Homo sapiens: one gene and its partners. The protein of the gene in region 1 purifies or fractionates together with the protein of each later gene. This does not show direct contact. Each region holds a gene or a part of one and is shown in the gene's direction. Other genes may lie near its edges.

Region 1 (7,083 bases):
TAATTTTAAGTGCTCAGCATTACATTCTACTGCATTTTTTAAAAAGGTGCTTTTAACGTTAAAAGGAAAAAGTTACTAAAATAAATTTCTAACTTCATACAAGTACTTCCTGTTATTATAAGTATAGCAAATCTCAGAGAATTTGCTAGTAATTATTAGTACTAAAAACTTAGCTTATTTCTTACAACTTTATTTCTTATGTGATAAAAGATGAGAAGCTTCTTGTAATTTGTATTTTGCTTTAGCAAAAATTGCAATTCAGAATCTATTTAATGTTGAGTGTATTAGGCCTAAATTTTGTTTCTTTTTCTGTGTGTTCCCAATTTCTTTCGTTCTTTTTTATTTTTCTTTTTGATATAGAGTCTCACTATTTCACCCTGGCTGGCACGATCTGTAACTGCTGCCTCCTGGGCTCAAATAATCCTCCCACCTCAGCCTCCTGAGTAGCTGGGACTACAGGCACACCTGGCTAATTTTTGTAGTTTTTGTAGAGATGAGGTTTTGCCGTGTTGCCCAGGCTGGTGTCGAACTTCTGGGCTCAGGTGACTCTCCCGCCTTAGCCTCCCAAAGTGCTGGGATTACAGGCGAGAGTCACCGTGCCTGGTGTAATTTCTGTATTACGATGATCATTGAGCTACAGAAGGTTTTATGCCATTTATTGGATCTTACCAAACATATTTGTACTTGGGAGCAAGCTTTTAAGTTTGAATTGTCTGTTGTATTAACGACAACAAATCTTTAAATTTTATTAAGTGACAGTTTATTGAGGTGATTGAAAGTTAGATTATGTAGTAATACTTTTTAGGTGTTGTTTTAAAGTTGAAGTGTTGTATGTTTTAGCAGTTTTCCCATGTACTACCTTTAAGAATTTATGTAAACAAATACATTCCCATTACTGTCTAATATATGCTATGTTACTTTTTTCACAGTATGTTTTTGAGGAATATGATTCGTAATACATAAGGAATTTGTGCTGTAACATAGATCGTGATGTTGGTGTTATGTTGAATTTATTTTTCATGCTCTTGATAGACTTTTAAAAATCAGTGGTGCCGGCTGGGCATGGTGGCTCACGCCTGTAATCACAGCACTTTGGGAGGCCGAGGTAGGAGGATCACCTGAGGTCAAGGGAGTTTGAGACCAGCCTGGCCAGCGTAGTAAAACCCTGTCTCTTCTAAAAATACAAAATTAGCTGGGCATGGTGGCACACACCTGTAATCCCAGCTATTCGGAAGGCTGAGGCAGGAGAACTGCTTGAACCCAGGAGGCGGAGGTTGCAGTGAGCTGAGGTTGCGCCACTGAACTCCAGCCTCGGCGAAAAAAGTGAAACTCTCTCTCTCAAAAAAAAAAAAACTAAATAAAATAAAATAAAAATCAGCAGTACCACATTATAAGGAGGTGGTAGATTATTAAAGTTTGTAAATAATTCCAAGACTTATTTTTATTATGTCAGGTTGATTTTTACTTTTTTTTTTTAAGACGGACTTTTGCTCTTGTTGCCCAGGCCGGAGTGCAGTGGTGCGATCTCGGCTCACTGCAACCTCTGCCTCCCAGGTTCAAGCAGTTCTCCTGCCTCAGCCTCCTGAGTAACTGGAATTATAGGCATGCACCATCATGCCGGGCTAATTTTGTGCTTTTAGTAGAGACAAGGTTTCTCCATATTGGTCAGGCTGGTCTCGAACTCCTGACCTCAGGTGATCTGCCCGCCTCGGCCTCCCAAAGTGCTGGGATTACAGGCGTGAGCCACTGCGCCCGGCCGATTTTTACTTTTTTTAAACTCAAACTTTTTTTTCCTGTATCTATATTGTACATGTTATTAACGTCTTTTATTACGTAGCAGTAAATTTTCAATTAAAATGGGCTGGTTGGGCTGGATATACCAGAATCTTTAGAGGAGGAATGATTTAGATGATTATACTTTGGCGGGCATGGTGGCTCATGCTTGTAATCCCAGTACTTTGGGAGGCTGAGGTGGGTGGATTACTTGAGGTTGGGAGTTCAAGACCAGCCTGGCCAAAGTGATGAAAACCCCGTCTCTACTAAAAGTATAAAAAAATTAGCTGGGCATGGTGGCGCATGCCTGTATTCCCAGCTACTCAGGAGACTGAGGTAGGATCGCTTGAACCTAGGAGGTGGAGGTTGCAGTGAGTCGAGATGGCACCACTGCACTCCAGCTTGGGTGACAGGGAGACCCCATTTCAGGAAAAAAAAAAAAAAAAAGGTGGTTATATTTAGAATCCACGTAGATTGAATTTTCCAGATGTACTTTTCTTTCTTCAACAATGATTGGCTTAGGCCACATGAAAAAATAATGGATTGATTACAAATTCCCTTTTTTAATGCCCTGTGTGTGTGTACATGTTCTCTCTCTCTCTCCCCCTACCTCTACCTTTGTTTGTCTCCCTATCCACTCTGTCAGTTCGTTCCCCCCTCTCTGTTCTTTTCCTTCCCCCTCTTCCTTCTGTCTCACCCCTTTCATAAGTCATTCATTTAACAACAACCCGTTTCATATATCAGGTAATATAGAATGAAGGTGGGTGAGGCATCTGACCTGCTTTCAGGGAGCCCACAGTGTAGCAGAAGATGCAGATAAATAAAGCAAAACTCCTAGCATATCTATTTATGAGTATTCCAACATAAAATAATTGTAGGAAATGCTATGAGAGGACAGAAGAGGACAGCTAAATCAGAGAGCTATGGAAAGTTTTCTGGTGGAGTTGACATCTAAGCTGAGTGCGAAGGCTTTTGCTAGGCAAAGAAGGGAAGAAAAGTTTTTCAGATAGAGGATAACGTACTGGAAAATGAACGAAACAAGGTGAAGTATCTGGAAACTGTAAGTAATTTGGTGTGACTGAATTAACTTAAAGCATGATATGTTTGGGTAGGAATAAAAGGGCAGTGGTGGGAGATGAAGCTGAGTGAGGGAGTCGAAAATTTTCTTGGCCAGGCATGGTGTCTCACACCTGTAATCCCAGCACTTTGGGAGGTTGAGGCAGGTGGATCACCTGAGTTCTATACCAGCCTGGCCAACATGGTGAAACCCTGTTTCTACTAAAAATACAAAATTAGCAGGGCATGGTGGTGTGAGCCTGTAATGCCAGCTATTAGGGAGGCTGAGGCAGAAGAATAGCTTGAACACGGGAGGTGGAGGTTACAGTGAGCCGAGATCATGCCATTGCACTCCAGCCTGGGTGACAAGAGCAATACTCTGTCTCAAAAAAAAAAAAATTTTTTCTTGAAAACTACATGGAACCATTGAAAGTTGTTGAGAATTGCTTGAACCCAGGAGCTGGAGGTTGCGGTGAGCTGAGATCAGGCCACTGCAAAAACAAGGGGAGAGCTGAATGTAAGGATGGAAATTCCAGGTAAGAAGTCCAAGTGGAAAATGAATAAGGGCCTGAACTAATGCATTGGAAGTGGAGCAGAGAGGATAGATCTGAGCCTTTTTGAAGTAGAATTCAGGGCCGGGCACAGTGGCTCACACCTGTAATCCCAGCACTTTGGGAGGCTGAGGTGGGTGGATCATGAGGTCAGGAGATTGAGACCATCCTGGCTAACACAGTGAAACCCCGTCTCTACTAAAAAAATACAAAAAATAGAAATTAGCCAGGCTTGGTAGCGGGCGCCTGTAGGACGCTGAGGCAGGAGAATGGTGCGAACCTGGGAGGCGGAGCTTGCAGTGAGCCGAGATCACGCCACTGCACTCCAGCCTGGGCGACAGAGCAAGAGTCTGTCTTAAAAGAAGTAGAATTCAGGACCTAGTAACTCATCCTGGGGTAGGAAGAAGATGGAGGTTTTTTTCTTAGGAAATTAGATAGATGTTACTGTCATTTGAAGCATGCTGTCATTGGACCTGCTAGTTAAGATGTAAGAGTAAGTAGGTAGGATGAAGTCAGAGGCTTGGTTAATCTGGTGTGAATGTTAACCTCATATCTATGATATTTGAAGGGATTTAAGATCCATAACATGGCAAATTTTGTGCTATAAATTTGTGGTCCTTTAGATGAATAGGTAATCTTGTAAAATACTAACATGTTTTCTGTCCAAATTGCTAAATCTTTGTTTATTGTAATTAAAAAAAATACTAGGTGAGTACCTATGTCACTGAAGAATGTTTTTGCCAAGTCAGCCAGTGAATTCAGTCATTGAACACATTGTGTACTTTCCTTGTACCGGACATTGTTCTGGGTTTTGAGGATGCAGCAGTGAATAGAACAAGAGTTCTTACCCTCGTGGAGTTTACTTTCTACTATGGTGGACACACGTTAAGAAAAAAAATAATGCTAAGTGCTTTGAAGAGAAATGATACGGAATCAGAATAAGAGGTTAGAGTGACAGAGGGTGGGTTACTTTAGATTAGGTGATAATGGAGGGCCTTTTCGAGATGACATTTAAGTGTGCTGTGAAACAAGTGATAGAGTGAGCCATTCAGGTTTCTGGGGGAGGAGCATTCCCTGCAGAAAACAAGTGCAAATACCCTGAGATGGAGTGTGCTTGGCATGTTTGAGTGTGATACATTTAAGGAACATTAAGGCCATCAGGGCTGGAGTGGTAGGAGAGGAGGTCAGAGAGGGTCACAAAGGGCCAGTACAATTGTAGGGCCTTATAGGACATGGTAAGGACTTGAGTAAAATCTGAATGTGTTAGGAACCCTTTGAAGGGTGTTGAGTGAAGTGATGTGATAAACATTTTCAAAAATGTTTGACTGCTGGGTAGTGAACACATCATGGGTTCGAACAGATCATGGGAACACAAGAGTGGAAGTAGGGAGATCAGTCAGAAGGCTGTCAAGCTAGTCCTGGGGAGAGATGGTGGTGAGGAGAAATAGTAGTATTGGGAATATATTTGAAGATGGGGATGATTGGATTTCAATGGATTGGGTGTGAAGGGAAAATTCTACTTACTGCAACTTGCACATGTATGTCCTCCCACAAGTGCCCTCCCTCCTTTTCTTTTGAGACGGAGCCTCTCTCTGTTGCCTAGGCTGGAGTGCAGTGATGTGATCTCGGCTCACTGCAGCCTCTGTCTCCCGAGTTTAAGTAATTCTCTTGCCCCAGACTCCCCTGTAGCTGGGATTACAGGCACCTGCCACCACGCCTGGCTAATTTTTTTTGTATTTTTTGTTTTTTTTTTTTTAGACGGAGTTTCGCTCGTTACCCAGGTTGGAGTGCAATGGCACGATCTCGGCTCACTGCAACCTCTGCCTCCCAGGTTCAAGCGATTCTCCTGCCTCAGCCTCCCAAGTAGCTGGGACTACAGGCATGTGCCACCATGTCTGGCTAATTTTTGTATTTTTAGTAGAGACGGGGTTTCACCATGTTGGCCAGGCTGGTCTCAAACTCCTGACCTTGTTATCCACCTGCCTCGGCCTCCCAGAGTGCTGGGATTACAGGTGTGAGTCACCTCGCCCGGCCTTTTTTTTTGTGTTTTTAGTAGCAATGGGGTTTCACCATGTTGGCCAGGATGGTTCTGAACTCCTGACCTTAAGTGATCCGCCCGCCTTGGCCTCCCAAAGTGTGAGCCACTGCACCTGGCCGTCCTCCCTTTTTTTAAAAAAGTCTTTTTGCTGTGATTAGTTGGTAGATGGGATTCTTGGAACTGAGTATGACCATGAAGGCATTGTCAAATCTTAGCCTTCTCAGTGAGCAGTGAACATTGAGTTGAGCAATCCTTTCACTTGTTTTTTTAATTAAAAAAAATGAGATATAATTCACATACCATAAAATTCACCCTTTTATTTTATTTTTTTTGAGACATGGCCACAGTCTGTTGCCCAGGCAGGAGTGTAGTGGCGCAATCACAGCTCACTGCAGCCTTGATCTTCAGTGGGCTCATGTGATCCTGCTTCAACCTCCCAGGTAGCTGGGACCAGAGGTGCACGGCACCATGCCCAGCTAACTTTTAAATTTTCTGTGGAGGTCTCACTGTGTTGCCCAGGCTGGTCTTGAACTCCTGGGCTCAAATGATCCTCCCATCTTGGCCTACCAAAGTGTTGGGATTACAGGCATGAGCCACCGCGCCTCACCAAATTCACCTTTTTAAAGTGTTCATAAATTTCTAGTATTTTCACAAGTTTGTGCATCCATCACTACTATCTTTTGAAAACTTTTTTGTTAATTTCTTTTGTTTGTTTTTTTAGAGATGAGGTCTTGCTGTGTTACCTAGGCTGGCCTTGAACTCTTGTGGTCAAGTGATCTTTCCCCCTCAACTTCCTGAGTAGCTGAGACTTCAGGCACGTTACTTATCCCTAGCTATCTGTCACTGCTATTTAACTCCAGAACATTTCCAAATTCCCAACAAGAAACTTCTTATCCATTAGCAGTCATTCACTGTTCTCCCTTTCTTTTATCCCTCCAGTAACTAATCTAAATTTTTTTTTTGAGAAGAGTTTTGATTCTGTCACCCAGGCTGGAGTGCAGTGGCTCGACCATGGCTCACTGCAGCATCGACCTCCTGGGTTCAAGCGATCTTCCTGCCTCCAGCTCCCAAGTAGATGGGATTACAGGTGTGCGCCACCATGCCCAGCAAATTTTGGAATTTTTTGTAGTAGTGAAGTCTCACTATGTTCCCTAGCCTGGTCTGGAACTCCTGAGCTCAAGTGATCCTCTTGCATTGGCCCCCAAAGTGCTGGGATTACAAGATTCAGACACTGAGCTTAGCATTTACTTTCTGTCTATAAGGATTTGCGTATTCTGGGCATTTTCTGTTAACGGAATCCTGTAATACATATGTGGCCTTTTTGTGTCTGATTTCTTTTACTTCCCATAAGTGAAAGAAGTAGCAAGTGTTGACCAGGCGCGATGGCTCACGCCTGTAATCCCAGCACTTTGGGAAGCCGATGTGGGTGGATCACGATGTCAGGAGTTCAAGACCAGCCTGGCCAAGATGGTGAAACCCCATCTGTACTAAATAAAAAAATTAGCCGGGTGTGGTGGTGGGCGCCTGTAATCCCAGCTACTCAGGAGGCTGAGGCAGAGAATTGCTTGAACCTGGGAGGCAAAGGTTGCAGTGAGCTGCGATGGCGCCACTGCACTCCAGCCTAGGTGTCAGATCAAGACTCCGTCTCAAAAAAAAAAAAAAAAA
Region 2 (7,083 bases), on another chromosome or scaffold:
ATCCAGTGCCCATATTGACCTTGTTAAGAAAACATCACAAGGAAATGGCCACTTTGTCAATCCTGAGATTTAACTTCAGGTACCACTCTTGTCTGTGCTGCTATCTTACACTGGGAGACTGTGACATACTGTCTCACTCTTAATGTCTTTACTAGTCAATGATGAATCTGGTCGAGATTCTGAAGTCAGTGCCAGGGAGCACATGAGTTCCAGCAGCTCCCTCCAGTCCCGGGAGGAGAAGCAAGAGCCTGTTGTGGTAAGGCCCTATCCACAGGTGCAGATGTTGTCGACACACCATGCTGTCGCATCAGCCACACCTGTTGCAGTGACAGCCCCGCCAGCACACCTGACGCCAGCAGTGCCACTTTCATTTTCGGAGGGACTTATGAAGGTAATGGAGAGGGTTAAAACTTCACACTGAACCAGAGCTCGAGACTGGCTAATGTTTGTAACAATTTGTATAAAATCTTAGGCTGTATCTTAGGATCACATTTCATTTTTTCTTTATGACATATGAGTTCAGCTCCTTTCTGTAACTCAGCCCTGATTTTCTGCAGTGCCTTGTCTTGTGCTGCTGGGCAGTTGGCATCATAGGATCTTTGCTGTTATCCATTTTGATACTGATATTATTCAACTTATGGGCATGTTAAGTTAGATACAATCTTGAAGGGACCCTCTTTTTTTTTTAAGCCAGTCAGATTTAGCAGTGGGGGCTTAATGACATTAATGTTTTGTTTCTGTTTTTATTTGAGACGGAGTCTTTCTCTGTCATCCAGGCTGGAGTGCAGTGGTGCGATCTTGGCTCACTGCAACTTCCACCTCCAAGGTTCAAGCGGTTCTGCAGCCTCAGCCTCCCAAGTAGCTGGTATTACAGGCGCACGTCACTACGCCTGGCTAATTTTTGTATTTTTAGTAGAGATGGCGTTTCACCATGTCGGCCAGGCTGGTCTCAAACTCCTGGCCTCAAGTGGTCTGCCCGCCTTAGCTTCCCAGATTGCTGGGATTACAGGCGTGAGCCACTGTGCCCAGCTGACAGTAATGTTATAAGTTCAGATAACCCAGTACCATGGGACCAAGTGGAGTGGCACTCTTCTTTAAGGTTTGTTTTAATAACTGGTTAATTTGGGGGTTTCTGAGAATATTGCCTGTGTATTACCTTGGGGTTGTGTTTCAGTTACTGGGAGTTTTGTTCAATCCACCCAAACTTGGGAGGCAGCATCATGTAGAAGAAAGGGTGTGGGCTGTGAGCCATACAGCTCTGGGCTTTATTCCCAGTTCTACTTCTTACTGTGTGTGTGGCTTTGAGCAAGTCAGTTAGCCTTGCTTTGTATGTTTCTTTATCTGTGAAATAGAAATGCTAGTACTTCAGTGGAAACACTGTGATGATAATAGATAAAATGTATAAAGCTTACGGCATCTTTCCTGGCACTTTCCAGGTTCGATTTGTGCACTCTTAATTGTGGATTGAAATGCATCACCAGTATGAGGCCATTGATATGTTTTGTGTGGTTTTCTGTTTGCAGCCGCCCCCGAAGCCCACCATGCCTAGCCGTCCCATTGCTCCTGCTCCACCTTCTACCCTGTCACTTCCCCCCAAGGTTCCAGGGCAGGTTACCGTTACCATGGAGAGTAGCATCCCTCAAGCTTCAGCCATTCCTGTGGCAACAATCAGTGGACAACAGGTTTTTCTTCCTTTTAATTTGCTGATTTTCAAACTGAAATGCCAAACTGTTGATCATGATTTATTGAATGCTAGCAGTACATTAGTCACGGTAATAAAAAAAGATCAAACAGTCACTGATACCTGCAAGTGAAGATAGTAGGTTTGAGAGAGAAGGATAACTGTAAAGGGAGTAGAAGCCAGTGTCCATAGTGGTCATTTAGCTAGAATTTATTGAGCAGCTACTAGATGCTCGATTCGACCCTAGTGTGATATATAAATCTAGATAAAACAGTCCGTGTCCTTGAGGAGTCCGGAGTCCGGTTCGTGTTTGGTTTTAGCGTCAAGAACTGCCTTCCGGGGGTAGGCAGTGCTGCTCTGTGGTTTCTCTGAGGAGAGCAGATGTGCATCTCTTGGGATAGGTTACCTCAAGCAGCTCTCTAGTTCCAAACTTTTTTTTTTTTTTTTTTGAGACAGAATCTCACGGTGTCACCCAAGCTGGAGTGTAGTGGTGCAGTCTTGGCTCACAGCAACGTCCACGTCCCGTGTTCGAGCCATTCTCTTGCCTCAGCCTCCCGAGTAGCTAGGATTACAAGCGGGCACCACCACCCCCAGCTAATTTTTTTATTTTAATAGAGACGGGGTTTCACCATGTTGGCCAGGCTGGTCTCCAACTCCTGACCTCAAATGATCTGCCCGCCTCGGCCTCCCAAAGTGCTGGGATTACAGGCATGAGCCACCGCACCCAGCCTTAGTTGCGAACATTTATTCTGAAGTCTTCTGTTTTAAGGTTTTTTTGTGAAATTTTGCAATCCTACTCTGCTGTGTACCTGATTAATTAAATATTTTACATTTTTTACCTGGGGAAAAAAACTAAATCTAAAAACTTTCCCTTCACATTTTCAAGAAAAATTTATATCCCAAAGAGGTGTACTGTGTTTTTTCCTTTTGTCATACTGCTGAGTACTCTCAGAAGTACCAGAACCCTTAGCTGAGAAGCCCTGAACTCTGTGGTTTGGGAGAATGTAAGGGACATTTCAGGGTTGAGCTGAAGAACTGGTAGGGAGCACCTGTTGGATACCAACTGACATTTACTTAGAAACAAAAAAGCTTAAAGAATGGATGGATGCAGTGGTATGTAAAGGAAATAGTGAGAATGGGAAAAAAAATAAGCATTTGGCCAGAACAGGGAAAACAAGTGTGAAAGGTAATATCGCAGATGAGAGTTTCTAAACGTAGATATCGAAGTATATTATCTGTAATTATGTGGGCCTGCAGCAGTTGTGGGGTCCTCATACTTCTCACATGCCTGTTAGCACAGTTCATTGTACGGTATGGCATGTAAAAGTAGCTCAAGCTGAATGTCCTTAGCCCTTTCTCTTGGGATACTCACTATCTAAAAAACAACCTGACCCACATTTGGAGGCAGGTGACTTCCTAGAGGCAATGGCTAAGAGCAAACATGTAAAAATAACGTTCTATCCTCTTTCTTTCAGGGCCATCCCAGTAACCTGCATCACATCATGACTACAAATGTGCAAATGTCTATCATCCGCAGCAATGCTCCTGGGCCCCCTCTTCACATTGGAGCTTCTCATTTACCTCGAGGTAACGACTTGCAAGTTTTGTTCAAACTCTCAAAATGTAGTAGTAGATATACATTTGGTAAAATACGTAACACAGAATGTATCTAGAATCAGCTTGTTAAAGTTGCAGAACAACAGTCTGCAGAACCGTGAACCAAATAAACCTCTTTTATTTAAAAAGAAAAAAAGGCCAGGTGCTGCGGTTCATGTCTATAAACCCAACACTTTGGGAGGCTGAGGTGGTAGGTTCACTTGAGTCCAGGAATTTGAGACCAGCCTGGGCAACATGGCGAAACCCTGTCTCTACAAAAATACAAAAAATTAGCCAGGTGTGGTGGCATGCGTCTGTAGTCCCATCTACTCAGGAGGCTGAGATGGGAGGATGGCACTCAGGAGGCTGAGATGGGAGGATGGCACTCAGGAGGCTGAGATAGGAGGATGGCACTCAGGAGGCTGAGATGGGAGGATGGCACTCAGGAGGCTGAGATGGGAGGATGGCTTGAGCTCGGGAGGCAGAGGTTGAAATGAGTTGAGATTGCGCCGCTGCACTCCAGCCTGGGTGACAGAGCGAGAACCTGTCTCAAGAAAAAGAAAAAAAATCGCAAGACAGTAGAAATAAACTTAGAGCAATCCATGTTTTTAGCATGGTTTAATATGTGCTTATTATAGTTGTATTACAAGTGTGTATATTTATGCAATTAAAGTGTTTAATATGGTCTAAAATTGTCCTATATATTGAGGAACTGCCCAAGCTTTGATAATCTCAACATGGTCTTTATTATTAGACTGCTTATCTGCAACATGGTCTTTATTTTTAATACATAAGTCACAAATATTAATACTGAATATTTTTAAAGTTCAGTGATGATCTTTACTCAGTTTTTTAACTTATGTAACAATAAAATGATGATGATAATTATTTTTTGAGATGGGGCCTCACTGGGTTACCCAGGCTGGTTTCAGATTTCTGGGGCACAAGCGATCTTCCCACTTTAGCCTCCTGAGTGGCTGGGACTACAGGTGTGAGCCACCACATGGCTAAGATTAATTTATTTTTACCCTTAAGTTCTAATAGGTTGTGAGGTAATAAATGAATTTTGACTAGAAATTTTTACCTTTTATTGGAGACTTTACAACAATTGGAGATTGTTGGCAAAATCAAGTTAGCAAACGCAAGACCAGGTTTGCTTGGTTATAGCATAACTCAGCAGTTCTCCAAATGTGGTTCACAGGCCCTTATGGGGGTCTGCAGGGTGAAAAGTGCAGGGTTAGGTTTAAGGTTAAGGTTCATAATGTGTCCCTTTGGCAATGTCGACGTCTGCTCTAATGGAACAAAGACTGGAAGGCAAAGTGTCCGAGCCTCGTCAGAGCTGAGGCAGTGGCATCACACTGCTGTTCCCTGTGTGCTTTACCACTGTGCACACTTGCAGTTAACAGAAACAAAAAACAGCAGCTAGTTTCACTTAAGGTTGTCTGTGAAGAGGCAATATAAATTATTATTAAATCTCTTGAATACACATTTTCTTTGTTTTCTCTGTGATGAAATGGGAAGTATACATACCATACTTCAGCTCGATATTGACATGCTATCTGAGTTTTGGGAAACATACTGATTATTTTCCCAGGGAATATAACTAGAATAAATATAATAAACACTTTTTTTTTTTCAGGTGCAGCTGCTGCTGCTGTGATGTCCAGTTCTAAAGTAACCACAGTCCTGAGGCCGACCTCACAGCTGCCAAATGCTGCTACTGCTCAGCCAGCAGTACAGCACATCATTCACCAACCAATCCAGGCACGTCGGAGCCTGGGGTGCATTAAGGGCCTCATTGGAGTTATTCATTCTGCCAGGCACTAGGCACATCCTTGACCTCAGGGACTTTCCATCTAGTTGCCAAGACATAGGGAAGTTTGAAAGATGCACAGTGTCATGTGGCAAGCTGTAAGAATGCAGAGGAGAGATGGTGGGAAGCCTTCCTGTTGGAAAGGCTGTGCTAACGAGGAATCAGAGAAGTGAAGAGGAAGTGAAGGGGGAAATGAACAGTGGCAAGGAAGGGAGTGATGGTTGTAGACAGCAGTTAGTAAAGGCTAGCTAGGATTGAGGGATTTTAATTTGGATTGGGGGGATCTGTGGACTCCTAAAAGTTAGGTGTATATCTATGTATATTCCAAGAACATGGTCCATGCCATTCAGCTTTTTCTTAAGGAAATCTATGACCTCATTATTACTGAAGTATAATATATTTGCAGGAAATATAGTATCTATAAATTGGGTTCTCTAGGATATGGAGTATAAACTAGACTTTATATACAGTAGAGAGCCACTGCGTTTTTTTGTTTATTTGTTTTTGTTTTTTGAGACAGTCTCACTCTGTTGCCCAGGCTGAAGTGCAGTGGTGCGATCCCAGCTCACTGCAACCTCTGCTTCCTGGGTTCAAGCGATTCTCCTGCCTCAGCCTTCCAAGTACTTGGGACTACAGGTGTGCACCACCATGCCCGGCTAATTTTTATACTTTTAGTAGAGACAGGATTTCACCCTGTTGGCCAGGCTGGTCTCGAACTCCTGACCTCAAGTGATCTGCCTGCCTCGGCCTCCTGAAGTGCTAGGATTACAGGCGTGAGCTACTGTGCCCGGCCAAAAATCATTTTTGTCTTTTTAACACAATGGCTCTGTGTATCATTAAAGTAATACTGTTGAAAGATGAGATTAGGCCAGGCGCAGTGGCTCACACCTGTAATTCCCAGCATTTTGGGAGGCCAAGGCGGGCGGATTGTCTGAGATCAGGAGTTTGAAACCGCCTTGGGCAACATGGTGAAACCCTGTCTCTACTAAAATGCCAAAAAATTAGCTGGGCATGGTGGTGCGTGCCTGTAATCCCAGCTACCTGGGAGGCTGAGGTGGGAGAATCACTTGAGTCCGAGAGGCAGAGGTTGCAGTGAGCCAAGATCGTGCCACTGCACTCTAGCTGGGACGAGAGAGTGAGACTCCATCTCACAAAAAATAAGAAAGATAAGATTAATCTAGCTGAATCACATACAGGAGGTCTGTCCCCTTAAGCACTTTCAGGGGACAGACAGATGTATGAAACAACTGGGTTTAAGATAATAAGGAAGTCTTGATTATGATACTGGGTAGTATCTGTCTAGCCTACAGCTTTCAAGATAAATACTTTTCTGGCCAAGAAAACAGAGTCGGAGGAGTATTAGGCCTCTAGTAGTATATGTGATACATATGAAGGGTTGGAGGAAGACGAGAACCAAGACAAGGAGCTCCCGAGTGAGGAAGCTGGTGCTGTAGCCCTAGTGTGAGACACGCACCTGCACATGGTAGAAGCGGCAGGTAAAAGGGCTGTAGATGAAAAGCAAGGATGAGGAATGGGCAGAGCTCGGCCATTTAGATGCATGTTTCAGGGTTAAGAGCAAGGGAAGAATCAGAACTCAGGTGATTCGAAGAATAATGGTGGGTATGTGGATGAAGCCCAGTGTGGAGCTTATTTTTTAGAGGAAGATTTCACACGTAAGTGTGATAAGGGCACTCTGTCCATGTGAAAACATCCAGAAAGGATATGGGCACCCTGAACGATTACCTAGAAAAGAATACTGTTACCTTGAGTTGCCCTTGTACTCACTAACGTAGATGGCCTGAGAGCCAACAGCTCTATTCAGCAGCTGAGTAGGCCCTCTGTGGAGGTGCTGGGTTGGATGGCAGCGTAAAATGTCTACACCAGGACCAACAACAGACCTGTGGCAACTCTAGATTGAAGGGTGAGATCCCATTGGTACCAATAGTAGGGCAGAATTTTGACTCCAATCACATTTGTACAGGAGGGACTCATG
Region 3 (7,673 bases), on another chromosome or scaffold:
TTTTGAGATGGAGTTTCACTCTTGTTGCCCAGGCTGGAGTGCAATGGCGTGATCTCCTGGGTTCAAGCGATTCTCCTGCCTCTTTCTCACGTCTCCCGGGTTCAAGCAATTCTCCTGCTTGTCTCCTGAGTAGCTGGGATTACAGGCATGTGCCACCATGCCCAGCTAATTTTGTATTTTTAGTACAGATGGGGTTTCTCCATGTTAGTCAGGCTGGTCTTGAACTCCCGACCCCAGGTGATCCGCCCACCTCGGTCTCTGAAAGTGCTGGGATTACAGGCATGAGCCACCGTGCCCGGCAGCTAATTCTGTTTTCTTAAGGCTTTTGCGGATCATCAAAACAAGGAGAAACATAGCTCATTACCTAATGATGGTTAGAAATGTGATCTTTTTGCATATTGAATATCTGCAGGTTGAATATTAAGGTAAAGTAAAATAGACTGCTAATGCTCTTCATTACTATACCTCCCAGCCTACATCTTTCTCCTGTGCTGGGTGCTTCCTGCCCTCGAACATCAGACTCCAAGTTCTTCAGTTTTGGGACTCAGACTGGCTCTCCTTGCTCCTCAGCTTGCGGACAGTCTATTGTGGGACCTTGTGATTATGTAAGTTAGTACTTAATAAACATATATATGTATATACATTATATATATCTATATCTCCATCCTATTAGTTCTGTCCCTCTAGAGAACCCTGACTAATACACCATATATACATAAAAAGAGGATCCATTTAATTGAAGTCACCTCCCTCTCCAATCTAGGTCAGAACGAGGAAGTGTGTTAAAGTTAATGATTCCAAAATATCACTAATGCCATTTCTCAGTCCTTAATGACAACAATAACAAAATCAAGTTCTCAGTATTACATTTTCTTTCAAGGCAAAATCTTGTAAATCAGAAGTAGAGTTGATTACGGTAGCATATGGTTTAGGGGTTTTCAAGTTTAAGATGAATGAGTTTGCATTTATTTTTTAAGCACTTTGAAACTTAAACAATTCTATGCTTGGCCAGGCGCGGTGGTTCACGCCTGTAATCCCAGCACTTTGGGAGGCCAAGACAGGCGGATCACCTGAGGTCAGGAGTTCGAGACCAGCCTGGGCCAACATGACAAAACTCCGTCTCTACTAAAAATACAAAAATTAGTTGGGCATGGCGTCCGGCACCCGTAATCCCAGCTACTCAGGAGGCTGAGGCAGGAGAATCGCTTGAACCCGGGAGGCGGAGGTTGCAGTGAGCTGAGATCACGCCACTGCACTCCAGTCTGGGTGACAAGAGCAAGACTCCGTCTCAAAAAAAGAAAAAGAATTATATGTTCATCTCTTATATCTGACTCTCATAGGTTTGAGCATTTTCAGTTAGACTGGAAATATAATTTTAGAAAAAAGTTTAATTTTAAATGTTTCTTTTTAATCCATTTGAAATTTCTGTTCTACGGAAAAGTTTTAACATCCATTTTTGCAACACGCCACAGGAAACAAAACTGAAAGAGACAAGATTCTTCAACGTATCTTCAAAATTAAGCACCTTTCTTCAATGACATTTAAAATTCGTTATCAAAGGTAATTATGTTTTATTGCTTGATCTTCTAAGTTTGTTCCAAAAAAGATAAAATCTTTTTTGACTTTTTATCCCAAGGGGTGGGCTAAAAGTTTTATGGAATGTAAAGCTCCAAAAAACTTTTCACTACTGTATCCCCAGCGCACGGACCAGTAGTTGGCACATGGTAGACACTCGTCAATATTCCTTGTTGAATGCTTAAGATGCCTTTTTGGTTTATGTGTATGTGAAGAGAGTACATAACTAGAGGAACAAAATCATTACTCAGATTGTACTGTGTTGTGATTTTTTTTTTTAAAAAGAAAACCTAGGTTAAACTCCATCTTATCTTTGTAAAGGGTAAATTACTTCCAATTTTATTCTTGAGTTCAGATAAACACTATTCATTCTAGAGCCAATGAATGCTAGGAATAGAAGAACCGGTCTATTTCTTACTATTGTACTTTTAAATTACTTATATGCTTTTTGAGGGAAAGGCGTAATTTTCCTTATTCAACTTTGTACTCCCTCTATACTCTGTATTCGACATAATGTTTGTTTCCACATAATGTTATCTTGTCGTAGTCTTTTTTTCTCTTTTTTTCCGGAGATAGTCTTGCTCTGTCGCCCAGGCTGGAGTGCAGTGGCACAATCTCGGCTCACTGCAACCTCCCCTCCTAGGTTCAAGTGATTCTGTCTCAGCCTCCCCAATAGCTGGGACTACAGGCACGCGCCACCATGCCCTGCTAATTTTTTGTATTTTTAGTAGAGACAGGGTTTCACCATGTTGCCCAAGCTGGTCCCGAACTCCTGATCTCAGGCAATTCGCCCGCCTCGGCCTCCCAAAGTGGTAGGATTACAGGCGTGAGCCACCGCGTCCGGCCAAGTGTTATAGTCTTTTGTGCAGACCAAGTAGTGGCCAATAAATCTTGTAGAAACTAAAGTACTCATTTGCTTTTAACTAGGCCAAGACTAGAATAGCGTGATCTGTAAGTAAAATAACAGCCATTTCCCCAAATATCAAAGCCAAAGCTCTCCTGCTGTGTAGGTGAGATGAAGGGGCTTAAAAGTGAAGATTAAATCCACTTCAAAGTGTAAAGAGTATCCATCCATTTATCATTGCAGCAACGTTGCAACGTGAACAATCCGATTCCAAATACAAAACAGCTTAATTCAGTCTCTTTGCCGTACTCACATCCATAGCACAAAATACCCGGCAGGGCCCTGGAATGAGCACCACTGCGGTTAATAATCTACTCTATAAATACTGGACGAATCCAAATTTTTACTGGATTACACAGAATACGTTTTTAAAAAATCCAAAGAGTTTTAGATGTTACAACAGGGTTCCATCAAATACCACGTTTCCAAATCTTACCACCAGAATGTGTATCCATTTCAACTGCAATTATTTTGTGTCTAAAACTGTGTACTCTGCTTTGCAACAGGATAAACCCGGTGGATAAAAGCTGAAATCCGACCCTGTCCTAATTAAGAGGCTAAGAAAAATGGAGAACCGCGCTGGCGTGGAGTTGATACAGAAACACTGCAAGGGCTGGGGACAGGGCTTAGTTCGTGGAATACACAGGCAGCACCACCAACCCGGCTCTCCGGAAAAGAGAAAGTCCAGTGAGAAAGGTGAAAACTGACAAGGCACCGTTCTCCGACTTGCTGAAAAAAAGACAATGCAAATAGAGCAGGGTCCAAGGCGGAAGAAAATCAGAGAAAAGCAGGCAGCCAAGCGTGGCGAACACAGCTCTCGGGGCCACCCCGGAGGGGACCCGCGGCGGCCGCAGCGGGGCGGAGGCCGAAGCCGAGGCCGCCCCGGAACCAGAGAGCCAGGCGGGAAGTGCACAAAGGCACGAGGCCACGCCCAGGAGGGGCGGGCCCTTTGGCCGGAAGGGGGGGGGCCGGCGCGCGGGGCCGGTCGCCTAGGCAACGGGCTCGCGTGGCGTCCAGGCTTCTCAGAAAGCCCAAAATCCGGGAGCTTTGGGAGGGTAGAGGGGCGACGCGGGGGAGGGCGGTCCGGGGAGCTGAATGGCCTCAGGACGCCGGCCGACCGGGTGTCTGCATACTGTGGGCGGCCTTTCCAAGTGTGGGGAGCGGCCTCCGAGAACGGTGTCCATGACACAGGGCGGGAAGAGATAAGGCCTAGGGAAGGCGCCCCTCGGGCCTATCCACCTCTTCTGGGGCTCGGCACTAGGAAGCAGCTTCCCTCTCAGGCCCCTTTGTCTCCAAGCCGTTCCAAACTGAGTACCGGGAGACGACACAAAGGGAGGGCGGTGACGGATGGCGCAGGCGCGGGAGCCGCCTAGGCTGCTGGGAGTGGTGGTCCGGCCGCGGAATGGGTAGGTCTCCCGCGCACTCTGCGGCCGCAGCTCAAAGGACACCGAGAGGGTGCCAGTGCGCATGCGCCGCCACTTCCGCCCGTGCCCGGCCCTCCCCTTCCTTCCGCCTCCCGGAGGACTTGGGTTTCTAGTAGTAAGAGTCCGGGGGGCATTACTCACGGTCTCCCCGCCTCCTCTTCATCGTGATTGGGCTGTCAAAGTGATGTTGGCAAGTAGATTGGCTACTGCGGTTGCCAGTTCTGTTTCGGGCCCTACTTATACTGCTCTGTGGGGCGGGGACGAAGAGTCAGGGGCTGAGGAGCGAGTTGCGGTAGTTGCTGTGTACCATGGTCTCGGAGGTTTCTGTCCCGCGGCCCGTTAGGTCCTGGTCGGGTTTTCAGCGAAGCAGGCCGCTCCCCTGCGTTTCCCAGCGGGCGTGCTGTGCCGCCCAACAGGCTCTGCCTCCAAGTGCCAAAAACTCCTAGTAAAGTTTGCGCCTCGCCCGCCGTCCACACCCCAGCGGCCCTGACGCTGTCCCCTCCGCGACCCTCGCCTCTGGAAAAAGTGACAGGCAAGGCCACGCCCCCGCGAGGGCCGGCCTGGAGCCCGCAGCCCCCAGGGCCTGGGACGGTGAGGGGCGTGAATGCGGCGGGGGGCGGGGCCGTTGCCGGGGGAGGGGGCCGGGGCGCATGCGCGCTGCGCAGCGGGGCTGAATGTTTCCCAAGTGTTTGAAACTGGTATTTGGGTTTTCCACGTTGGACAAGTGCGGCTCGGCGGCCAGCGGAGCGCGCCCCTTCCCGCTGCCCGCTCCGCTCCTCTCTTCTACCCAGCCCAGTGGGCGAGTGGGCAGCGGCGGCCGCGGCGCTGGGCCCTCTCCCGCCGGTGTGTGCGCGCTCGTACGCGCGGCCCCCGGCGCCAGCCCCGCCGCCTGAGAGGGGGCCTGCGCCGCCGGCCGGGGCGTGCGCCCGGGAGCCACCGCCACCGCGGCCCGCGCCCTCAGGCGCTGGGGTCCCCGCGGACCCGGAGGCGGCGGACGGGCTCGGCAGATGTAGCCGCCGGGCCGAAGCAGGAGCCGGCGGGGGGGCGCCGGGAGAGCGAGGGCTTTGCATTTTGCAGTGCTATTTTTTGAGGGGGGCGGGGGGTGGAGGAAGCGGAAAGCCGCGCCGAGTCGCCGGGGACCTCCGGGGTGAACCATGTTGAGTCCTGCCAACGGGGAGCAGCTCCACCTGGTGAACTATGTGGAGGACTACCTGGACTCCATCGAGTCCCTGCCTTTCGACTTGCAGAGAAATGTCTCGCTGATGCGGGAGATCGACGCGAAATACCAAGGTACGGCCGGGTGATGGATGGGCGGGGGCGGCCGCCTCCTTCCCGGCGGGTCCGGGCGCGCCGCGGAGCCGGGCCGGTCCTGCCGTGGACCGGAGGAAGCGGCCGGCTCCGCAGCGGCGGCCCTCGGCAGGGGCAGGAACAAAAGGTCTGGAGCGCCTTTGATTCGCCAAGGTCCTTGTGTGCAAAGCCCGGGACACGGAGGAGGAAGGAGGCGCGAGAGGTCTCGCTGCAAGGCTGCGCGACCAAAGCGCTCTTTGTAGTGAAGTGATGAGGCGGGTGCTGCGGGGGAGGGGGCGGCGGGTCCAAGCCGCGTCCTCTAGGAGGGGGTGCAGATTACGGCGCGAGATGGAGGGATGTGCCGGCGCCTGGGGCTATAGGGCGCCGAGACGGGGCTGCAGGAGGAGGGCGGCTGTGGGCCGGGGTTCCCGCGGACCCGGTGCCTCGGTCCCGGGCAACGCCGTTCCTCTGGCCCTTCTTCGTCGCCCCCCACTCAGTCCCGAATCTGAGTGTTACATAAAGTACCGGGTAGTACTCCGCTCGGGGTAGGTCGGCCGCCCCCGCCCAGCCCCCTCCGGCCCTCACTTGGAGCTGGACACCGAGTAGGGGCCGACTGCGAGGGGCGACGCCGCCGGTTGTAGTTTGCGGAGGACGAGGGCTTTTCTCTGTGTGCCGTAGGGAAGGGAAGGGAAGGGGAGGAGCGGAGGCGGGGAAGGCGCCCATCTGCGCTGCGCTCGGGGGGGCGCGGGCAGATCGCTGGCTTGGAGAGGACTGTGGCAGGTGAGAGGACCTGTGCGTCGTTCTCTGCAGACCTGGCCGCCCCGGGTGTCAGAGAGAGGTGGCGAGTTCGTGTCCGCCGGGAATTGTTGGCTGTTGGGGAAACTTTCCTGCGAGGTCAGTCAAGGCTTTGGGGGCTCTGTTTTGAATGTGGATCACCACTCGGAGTTTACTAATGTTTACAAGGCTGCGCAGTAGGGAAACGGAAGAGTTGGGTGGGGGCAAAAAAAAAAATTGACCGCTATCCCCGAAAGTACTAGACGCCTCTGCCGGGAAGGCGCCCCTGCGCGTTCTATCCGAGACGTAGCTTCGCAGCGAATTTTATAGGAACTTCATTAGCATATTATGGAACGTCCCGCCTCAGCCCCCCAGTAGTTGGCTGTGATGTCCTTCGTGGAATGTCCTTATCATTCCCCTGCGGAACGATTGGTCGCTGAGGCGGATGAAGGCGGGCCTAGCGCAATAACTGGTATGGGTCTGTGTTTCCGCTGTCTTCTTTTTTCTTTTTCGGGGAGGAGCGGGGTGGAGGGTGGACGAGTTGATTTGAACGTCTTCGGGTCGCTCGGCCTCCAGCCTTGGATTGGTTCTTCTCGCTGCTGGGGCGGGCCGTGCTCTTCCGCCCTGCGGTGTGGTTGGTTCTCCTCCTGGCCTCCGCCCTCCAAATCGGCGATTCCCATAGGCGGCGGCTCTCGGGGTGCGGGGCGAGTCTCCCGCTGGCCTCCTCCCCATTGGCTGGAGGCCTGGCGGGTGTCGCCCCGGCCCCTCTCCCCGCTCAGCCCGGCCACTTTCGGGCGCGGATTTATAGCAGTAGCAGTGATCCCGGGCCTGTGGGCTCGGGGCCGGGGCTGCAGTTCGGACCGCCTCCCGCGACCCGCGGGGCCGGCTCGGAGACAGTTTCAGGCCGCATCTCTGCTGACCCGAGGGTGGGGCCGCGCGTGGCCGTGGAAACGTGAGTGACTGGGGCTGCGTCCACGAGGGGGACCCTCGGCGCAGAAACTTTTCTGGAAGGTGCTGTCCTCGGGCCGGACGGGCCCCGTGGGGTGACCCTGGGGCTCCGGACGGAAGGAAGGCAGGGGCTGAGACCACTTTGATCGTTCGACGATAGAAAAAAGTAGCGCGGGGCGGGGTGCAGGGTTCCAGCTGTCCAGACAGCAAAGTTCATGGAGCCACTTTGTCCTCCTGTCGTTGCTGGGGAGAGCCTGGCTTGCTGCTTGCTTCATGTTCACCTAGGGTGATGAACTTTTTGGCTTCAGGAAAGATCACAGTCCTGCCCCCCCGGGAGTACTGGAGCGGCGCAGCTGGGAGCGCCGAGAAGCGAGCGAATCTGTCGCAAGGGTCACAGCTCCTTGGACTTCGGTGTAAATGCTGAGCTCTGCCGCGTAGTTCTGAAAGACTTCCACAGACCTACTCTGTAGGAAGTCAAACGTCTTTTGCTTAGTAGGCATCAGTTGTATGTTAATTCATAAACTTGGATTATAATTAGTTTGTCGATTTAAAATGGTGTTTGAGGTTGCTTGAATTATTTTTCAAACATTATCATAAAAATACCCACCCACCCCCTGGGAAGTTCGCTTCATAAAGAACTTCAGTGCAACCCGTATGTAAAATTAAAATACATTTAAAATAATTGGACAAACCAATTTAAATGTTGCTACAACCCCATTTAATCTGTAAATTGCATGTGCTGCTGCTTTCCATGGTAATGT
Region 4 (8,037 bases), on another chromosome or scaffold:
CTCACACTCCACCCTCAGGGAGGTCGCTGATGCCAGACCCTGGGAGCACCTCCCCGCTCCACTCGTCTGCGCTGCAGCCGGTTCCTATTTGCCCGACGCCGCGACTGCGACCCAGGCTCCCCGCCGCAGCCGTTCTTGGGGGGGCTCCCGCAACTCAGCGGGCGCGACCCCCCGCCCGCTCCCTCGCTGCTCACGCCGGGCCCCCGCTATGTGACTGGGGGCCCGACCCGCACCCATGGGGCACCGCTCCTCCCTCGGGGTCCGCGCCTGCACCCGACGCTCAAAGCCCCTCTCGGAGTCCCACGCTCGCATGCGCTGTCCCGAGCCCTCTGGGGGTCCCCTCCTCTCACCCCGCTGTCCTGGCCCCTCTCGGGGTCACCCTGCTCCCACCCGCTGTCCCGGCCTCTCTCTAGGTGTCCTGCTCTCAGCCCCGCTGTCTCAGCCCAGCCCCCTTCCGGGACCCCTCCTCTTCTCCCACTGTCTTGGCCCTTCCTGGGGTCTTCTCACACTCTGTTCTAAGCCCTCTGGGGATCCCCTGTCTTCACATCCCCTGACCGGTCCCCTCTCTTTACTCTGTCCTGGATTCTCTCTGGGTCCCCTCCCCTCACCTCGGGGTCTCCTCTCCCCGGGTGCTGTCCCAGCCCCTCTCGGGGTCCCCATCTCTCAGACTCTCAGTGCCGGCCCCTCTCGGGGACCCTTCCCCTCTCCCCGCTGTCCCTGACCTTTTCTGGGACCTGGTCCTTCAGGGGACCCCCTCCCCTCATCCCCCTATCCTAGTGCCTCATGAGGCACCCACCCCTCACCCCACTACCCCAGCCCCTCTCCGGGTCCCTTCCTCTCACGCGCACTGTCCCGGCCCCTCTTGGAGACCCCTCCCCTCAGACTTTCAGTCTTGGACCCTCTCGGAGTCCTCTCCACTCAGAGCCACTGCCTCGGTCCCTCTCGGAGTCCCCTCTCCTCACCCGCTGTCCCGGTCCCTCCCGGGGTCTCCTCTCCACAGTCTGCACTGTCGAGCCCGCTCCCGCAACTCCCCTCACTCTGCCTGGGGTCCCGCCGCCTCGGCTCCCACTGTCATGCCCCGCGCCCCGGTGCTCTCACCTCAGACCTGCTGTCACCACCCCCGGGCCCGGCGCCGCCGCCGCCGCTTCCTCTCCCACACTTGTTCCTGAGTCGCTCTCCTGTGGCTTGTTCCCCGGCGGATCCTTGGGTCCGGTCGCTGAGTGCCGGATCCGGCTGTGCGCAGCCTCTGCTCGCGGTCTCGGCGTTGCGTCCCACTCTCCACGCAGGACCCCGCCGCCCGGCGCCACAAGGACCCTCCCGCGGCCGCCGCCGCTGCTGCTGTCCGAGGTGCGGCTCCTGCCAGGGGTGGCCAATCGCACCGGACTGCGCCGAGCACGCCCCGCCCCACCGTCTCAGTCCGCCCGCCCCCTGCCCCGGACCACGCCCCAAGCTCGGCTCCAATAGGCTCTCTACTGACCTTCCCTGATCGCGGGGCACAGGGCCGGGGCCGTATATAGGTATTTGATTGATGGAGCCTGGGAAGCCGAGCGGTCGATGGAACCCGAGGATTGGCGGAGTTGTCGATGGGCGGGACAGGGCAGGGCGGGGTCTCCTCAGACGCGGAAGACCTTGCAACTTTAGTAACCTACGGGCCCGCCTGGGGTGCGGTCAGTCTTGTTTGTGCTGCTCTCCGGTCAAAGTTCATGGCGCTTCTCCCCACGCCTTTACTTTTCTTGGGAGATTCCCAGGGACCACCATGTTAGAGCCTTTGGGGAGGACCCCAGTCTCTCGCTAGACCTTGCACAGCTTTCTTAGTAATTCTGCCATGAACTAATATAGCATTAATTTGCCCAGGATTTGTAAAAATTTCCTGGATTTAAACCATTTCTTTTTAAAATCTCTTGCAAGGGAGTTGCCTCTCCTTGAATTGAGTTCAGCAGCCGTCAGTTTGATACCGTTGGGGGAAAAAAAATCTATATACAGTACTAGGTGCATACTTTGCCCAACTAAGCGTTCAATGCGGGGCACATTTTGATAGGTGCAAGGACAAAGCTTTAGAAATTTTCAGTTTGTAGGTTTTTATGACAGTAGGAAGACTGTGGTAGGGGAACCCTATTATTAGCTTAACAAGGTTTCAGCAAAGCTATTCAATATAACCTTTTTCCAGGGCCACAGGTTTTAATGATTCTATGTGAACGTGTGGCCAAAGGATAACGAGCTTTGACCCAGGTTTAACATGTGATAATCAGAGACTCCTCTTGATCCACGCTAAAGGATAGTGCCTGCCAGGGGTGAAAGTGCATCATGCTACTAAGACCCATTTGTGTTATTTTTGTGAAACTGGATATGCTGATCAAATCAACACCGGAAACAGAAAACTGCTTTCCTTACTCTTAACGCCAAAAGTAAGTTTATGGACTTTAGAATTTAGCATTTTATGAAGAAATTGTCTCAGGAACACATTTTGATCCTAAGTTTTGTCAGATGTATACAGGCCTTAGTTCTCAGAGAACCCTCGATTGTTAACTTTTTAACTCCAGCTGACAAAATGTGTTTGTGTTCTAAACAGTATACATGTTTCTTCTAGTGTTTTAAGAATCATACGCCATTCATCACCTGAGGTCAAGGGTTCCAGACCTGCCTGGCCAACATGGTGAAATCCCGTCTGTACGAAAAATACAAAAATTAGCCGGGCATGGTGGCACCCACCTGTAATCCCAGCTACTAGAAAGGCTGAGGCAGGAGAATCACTTGAACCCGGAGGCGGAGGTTGCAGTGAGTCGAGATCGCATCACTTCACTCCAGCCTGGGTGAAAGAGCAAAACTCCGTCTCAAAAAAAGAAAAAAAGAAAAAGAAAAAAAAGAATCATACTCCATTCCAATTGTGATGTCCCCCTTTAAAGTTTCAGTTTGGGTGTTAGGGTAGGCAGAGAAGGCCTGGAAGCAAAGAAGTTGTGGAAATGGGGCTGGCAGGGCTTCGTTTCAAGTCAAGTCGAGTTCCTGAGCGGTGTGGCTGAGTACCGTTTTGAGAAGGGATATATAAAAAGATTTCAAGGTGGTAAAACTTGGTTTTGAGGGAACTTGATTTTTACAGGAGTATAGCGACTGTCCAAAATCATATTAAATAAATCTAAAGGTTAGGTAAGACTAAAGCCATAAGAGAATTTTTTTGAGTAGGTCCACCTTCACTAAAGAGCATTTTTTAGTTCTGCAGCTGGCAATCTGGACAGAAAAAAATGGGGTAAGTTTTCATAACCCAAGTGCTCAGTTGTGTCTATTCATTACATATAAAAAAGAAATGCATGACCATTAACAGATGCTGTTTGCAGTCAAGAAGACAGCAGTAAAACATAAGCAGGATAAAAATCTCAGCGTCTTGAAAGGAAACCATTTAGCAACGAAATAAACTTAAAAATTAATTGTATCAATGAACTCTTGATTTCTAAAATCTTTGCTTTTTCTGCACTATGATTACTGCTACTGACAGGAACGCAAGTTACTCAATATAGTTGATTGCAAGTAATTTAGATGTTCTCCAACAGCACAAAGAAAGAAAATGACTTCATCTTTTGGACAAGAGACAGTTCTGGAATCCTAGTTTAAATATAGATGGCAGACCTACGGTGCGATCTGAGAATGATTCTTATTTAGAAGGGGCTTCAGAAGATCTCAGAACTCCTGGAAAGACATCTTAGCATTCCATTCTGGAAATTCTTTAGTTTTGTTGGGAGAAAAAATCACTTACAAATAGAGCCAAGATTTTAATTAAAACAAGGTAGTAAATAAATGTCAAAATAAGTGGGATGAGAATAACGTTTCATTTTCAGAAGAGTCCATAGGGAACAATTCAGAGATAAATTTAATCACAAAAGGTCTGAGAATGGGAATATTCGGTTCCACCCTGGTTTTCACATCTGTTCATTTTCACTACTGGTTGCGTTTCCTACGGAGACTCGGGTGGAACATAAAAGTGGGGCTACTTTGGACAAACCATTAAAAACCTTACCCTTTTTTCTCGCTACACACAACTAGACCACATTGCTCTTAGCTAAAGGGACACCTTAAATCTATTCGTTCAGCAAAACTTATAACACCGTGTTCCTTTTCTACTCAGAGGGAATCGCACAAATTAATTCTTGCAGATACTCAGCTCTCCTGTTTTTTAAGCTTCCACGTGGGCCTTAGCCAAATAACTTCTGGTAGGCAAATTCTCCCCTTCTTCAGTTGAGAGCTCAGAGCAAGCTGTTGGATTAAGCAAAAGCACCTTTTAAAAAATTAATATTCAAGGCAGCTGTACCGCGGAGGGCCTGGGTCTCGGAGTCTAAAAAATCAGACTGGACGTTACTATTTTTTTTTAGGCAAACGACAGCTCGTTTCTCATTTGTAAAACCGGGGGAACATCTTACCGAATAAACCTTACACAAACAGAAAGGATTCCTAAGGGCTGGGAAAATACTATTTTGCTGTCCCCAGGATGGAATATCAGCATCCTTGTCTTTTAGCTCTTAATAAAGCTCTAACTAGTCACAGGAGGAGCCAGGCTGCATGATCACGCACACTCTGGACGTCTAGGTTTTCCGACCTAATAAGGGGGCAGGTCGCGTCGTTCCCTGCTTAAATTAGAGACCACCTCCACCTGCCAAGGGCCCTTCAAACCCTCCGCCCCTAGGTCGCTAACGATCACCGCTTTAGTTCTAGCTCCAGGCGCCGCCTGGCGGCTGTCTCCGGAAGTCGCCTGCGAGCCTCGGGGTCCTGACCGCTGCTGGGCCTGCCCGTAGATTTGCCTGACTCTAGCGAACCTGGCTCCGCCCCTCCCCCACTATACGTTGAGGATTTTAAGACGGCGATGAAAGGGCTGAGGTTGTGGCGACGGGGGCGTCCAGCGGCATCTCCACTCCCCCAAGGATGGCGGAATCAGGCCGTTGTCGGGCAGCTCTCGACCCGGAAGTCGCTCGCGGCGCGAGGCCCCCGTTGCCGAGCGCGGGCGCGGGGGGCGGAGCTCGGCGGAGACGGGGAAGGGGTCGCCGTGGCTGCCGGTCCTCGAGTTGGGGGCTGCCGCGGACACTGCTAGGCAGACGGCGAGTACCGAGCGCGGGTGGCCGCGGTGTCCGTGGGCCACGCTCAGCTGCGGTCAGAGGCGACATGAGTGCCGCGGGGCTGCTGGCCCCGGCCCCGGCCCAGGCTGGAGCGCCGCCGGCCCCCGAGTACTACCCCGAGGAGGATGAAGAGCTGGAGAGCGCCGAGGACGACGAGCGCAGCTGTCGGGGCCGCGAGTCGGACGAAGGTGAGTCCTGCCGCTCGCCCGGCCGCCCGGAGCGGAGGTGGGACCGCTGGGGGAGGGGGTGGGGCTGTTCGGGAGAGGGGCGGGGCGGCCTCCGGGGCCTGGGGCTGCGTGGAGGGGCCGCCGGGAGTTGCGGGGCTCGGGGAAGTTACCCCCATCCGTGCTGGAGTAGCGGGGAAGCCCTGGGTGCGTTACACTCGACCGTGATGGGGAGAGGGGACTTAGATGTTGTCACGCTGGGGGTCCCTTTAAGACCCCGTCCTCCCTCCCAGCCGTTTCTGATTGAACCTCACTCACTAGTAGGAATTAGAAACTCATTTACTGAATACATCGAGTGTAGTTCGCCCCTTTTTTGTGTGTGAGAGCATCAGAGTCCAAAGTTGCCCCTCCCCACCCCCGAAATGCATAAGTCATCTATACTTTAGGTAGTACACTATTGAGAACTCAGGTTGGTTAAAGGAAAGGGACCTAGAACCAGCCAGATACAGGTTTAAATTTGGCTTTGTCACTTAACTCAGCTTTGTAAACTTAAGTTTTCCAGCCTCGATTTACCCAACTGTAATGGAGCTGTTTAATTCCCACACCTGCCCTAGAAGGCACTTCCTAGGGTCGGTATAGGGATTAAATGACATGCGCATAAAGTACTTGGCCTGGTACTGTAAATACTCCGTAAATGTTCTCCCCACCCGCCCCCCTCCCGGAAACAGGTAAGAGAGGGAGAGATTTGCTTAATGGTCCCCAGGTGTTGTGTTTTCAGTCCCACGCTCTTTGCACTGTCATCACAGAGTCTCAGAGCCTTGCTTTTCAAACTGGGCTTTATAATTTGGCAAGTGTGAGGAACGCTATTTTGGAGGGATGGAGGAGGAGGAAGGTGATGAAATGTGAGAGATCAAGGGAGGAGAAATAGGAAACAAAGAGAGACCGATATATGAGCGGAATATTCTGGGACAAAATCGGGCCGTGGAGCAAAAGCTAGACCAGCTGTTTGGAATGGGGCCTACGTTTTATTCATCTGAGTTTCCCGAGTGCCAAGTAATGTGGCTGACCATGACAGGAACTCAGGGAAGGCCTCTTGACTGAAGGAGGGGAGAAGGGTTTGTGGGGAATTGGATCTGCAACAGCCTTACAAAAGACAGCTGCATATGCATGACATACAAAGTTGAGGGACTGCATTCGATTTAATTCCATCAGAAGACACGGCTTAACCAGAGATTTTGAATGTGAAGCACTTGCACTTCATCTCATACCCACGAGGGGGCGCTGTGGAGCCAAAATTGAGTTTTTTTTTCCTTCCAGTATAGGGGCTATTAAAATTTTGTACACACCCCAGCCATTAGCTTGTTCTAAGAACAATGTTTAAGATGTTCTGAAACAGTTTTCGTTTGATCATCTGGCCTCCTCCTTGTTCCCTTTAGTTGTAACTTGGAAAATATTTATTTGTGTCAGATTCCCCTTTTTTATTGTATACAGTTGGCTCTGCGTATCTGTGGGTTCTGCATCTGTGAATTCAACCAAGCGCAGCTCAAAAATATTCAGGAAAAAAATTGGATCTGTACTGAACATGTGCAGACTTTTTTTTTGTTATTCCTAAACAGTGTAGCGTAACAACTACTTACATAGTATTTACATTTTATTGGATATTGTAAGTAATCTTTTTTTTTTTTTTTTTAAGATGGGGTCTCACTCACTCACCCAGGCTGGTGTGCAGTGTCACGATCTCAGCTCACTGCAACTTCCATCTCCTGGGTTCAAGCAGTTCTCCTGCCTCAGTCTCCGGAGTAGTTGGGATTACTGGCACCTGCCACCATGCCTGGCTAATTTTTGTGGTTTTATTTGTTGTTTTGTTTATTTTATTTTTTTTTGAGATGGAGTTTCACTCTTGTTGCCCAGGGTGGAGTGCAATGGCGCGATCTCGGCTCACCACAACCTCTGCCTCCCGAGTTCAAGCAATTCTCCTGCCTCAGCCTCCTGAGTAGCTGGGATTACAGGCATGTGCCGCCACCCCCAGCTAATTTTGTATTTTTAGTAGAGACGTGGTTTCTCCATGCTGGTCAGGCTGGTCTCGAACTCCCGACCTCAGGTGATCCACCTGCCTTTGCCTCCCAAAGTGCTGGGATTACAGGCGTGAGCCACTGCACCTGGCCCTAATTTTTGTGTTTTTAGTAGAGATGGGGTTTCACCACGTTGGCCAGGCTGGTCTGGAACTCCTGTCCTCAGGTGATTCTCCTGCTTTGGCCTTCCAAAGTGCTGGGATTACAGACATGAGCTGCCATGCCTGGCCTGGATATTCTAAGTAATCTAGAGATGATTTAAAGTGTACTGTTGGCCTGGTGCAGTGGCTCATGCCTGTAATCCCAGCACTTTGGAATGCGAAAGCAGGTGGTTCACTTGAGGCCAGGAGTTCGAGACCAGCCTGGCCAACGTGGCGAAACCTCATCTCTACTAAAAATACAAAAAGTAGCCGGGTGTGGTGGTGCACCCCTGTAATCCCAGCTATTTGGGAAGCTGAGGCAGGAGAATCGCTTGAACCCAGGAGGTGGAGGTTGCAGTGAGCCGAGATTGTGCCACTGCACTCCAGCCTGGGCGACAGAGTGAGACTGTGTCTCATTAAAAAGAAAAGTATACTGGAAGATGTGCGTAGGTTATATGCAAATACTATGCCATTTTGTCAGAGACTTGAGCAGCTGAGGATTTTGGTATCCACGGGAGGTGCAGTAACCACTCCCCCACGGATACTGAGGGACAACCGTGTATCC

Evidence for each region.
Region 2: the proteins of ARID4B (region 1) and SAP130 fractionate together in Homo sapiens (co-fractionation; 4 studies listed by BioGRID, with this or other methods). This does not show direct contact.
Region 3: the proteins of ARID4B (region 1) and ING1 purify together in Homo sapiens (affinity purification with mass spectrometry; 2 studies listed by BioGRID and IntAct, with this or other methods). This does not show direct contact.
Region 4: the proteins of ARID4B (region 1) and SUDS3 purify together in Homo sapiens (affinity purification with western blotting; 3 studies listed by BioGRID, with this or other methods). This does not show direct contact.

What each region holds. Positions count from the first base shown.
Region 1 is NC_000001.11:235,318,178-235,325,260, reverse strand, and holds part of ARID4B (AT-rich interactive domain-containing protein 4B), read left to right. Parts: intron 1-7,083. UniProt on the Homo sapiens protein: Acts as a transcriptional repressor. May function in the assembly and/or enzymatic activity of the Sin3A corepressor complex or in mediating interactions between the complex and other regulatory complexes.
Region 2 is NC_000002.12:128,010,988-128,018,070, reverse strand, and holds part of SAP130 (histone deacetylase complex subunit SAP130), read left to right. Parts: intron 1-155; coding exon 156-391; intron 392-1,523; coding exon 1,524-1,682; intron 1,683-3,156; coding exon 3,157-3,268; intron 3,269-4,916; coding exon 4,917-5,041; intron 5,042-7,083. UniProt on the Homo sapiens protein: Acts as a transcriptional repressor. May function in the assembly and/or enzymatic activity of the mSin3A corepressor complex or in mediating interactions between the complex and other regulatory complexes.
Region 3 is NC_000013.11:110,709,093-110,716,765, forward strand, and holds the start of ING1 (inhibitor of growth protein 1), read left to right. Parts: upstream 1-4,607; 5' UTR 4,608-5,057; coding exon 5,058-5,193; intron 5,194-5,919; exon of another isoform or gene 5,920-6,351; coding exon of another isoform or gene 6,352-6,916; intron 6,917-7,673. UniProt on the Homo sapiens protein: Cooperates with p53/TP53 in the negative regulatory pathway of cell growth by modulating p53-dependent transcriptional activation. Implicated as a tumor suppressor gene.
Region 4 is NC_000012.12:118,371,550-118,379,586, forward strand, and holds the start of SUDS3 (sin3 histone deacetylase corepressor complex component SDS3), read left to right. Parts: upstream 1-5,005; 5' UTR 5,006-5,142; coding exon 5,143-5,284; intron 5,285-8,037.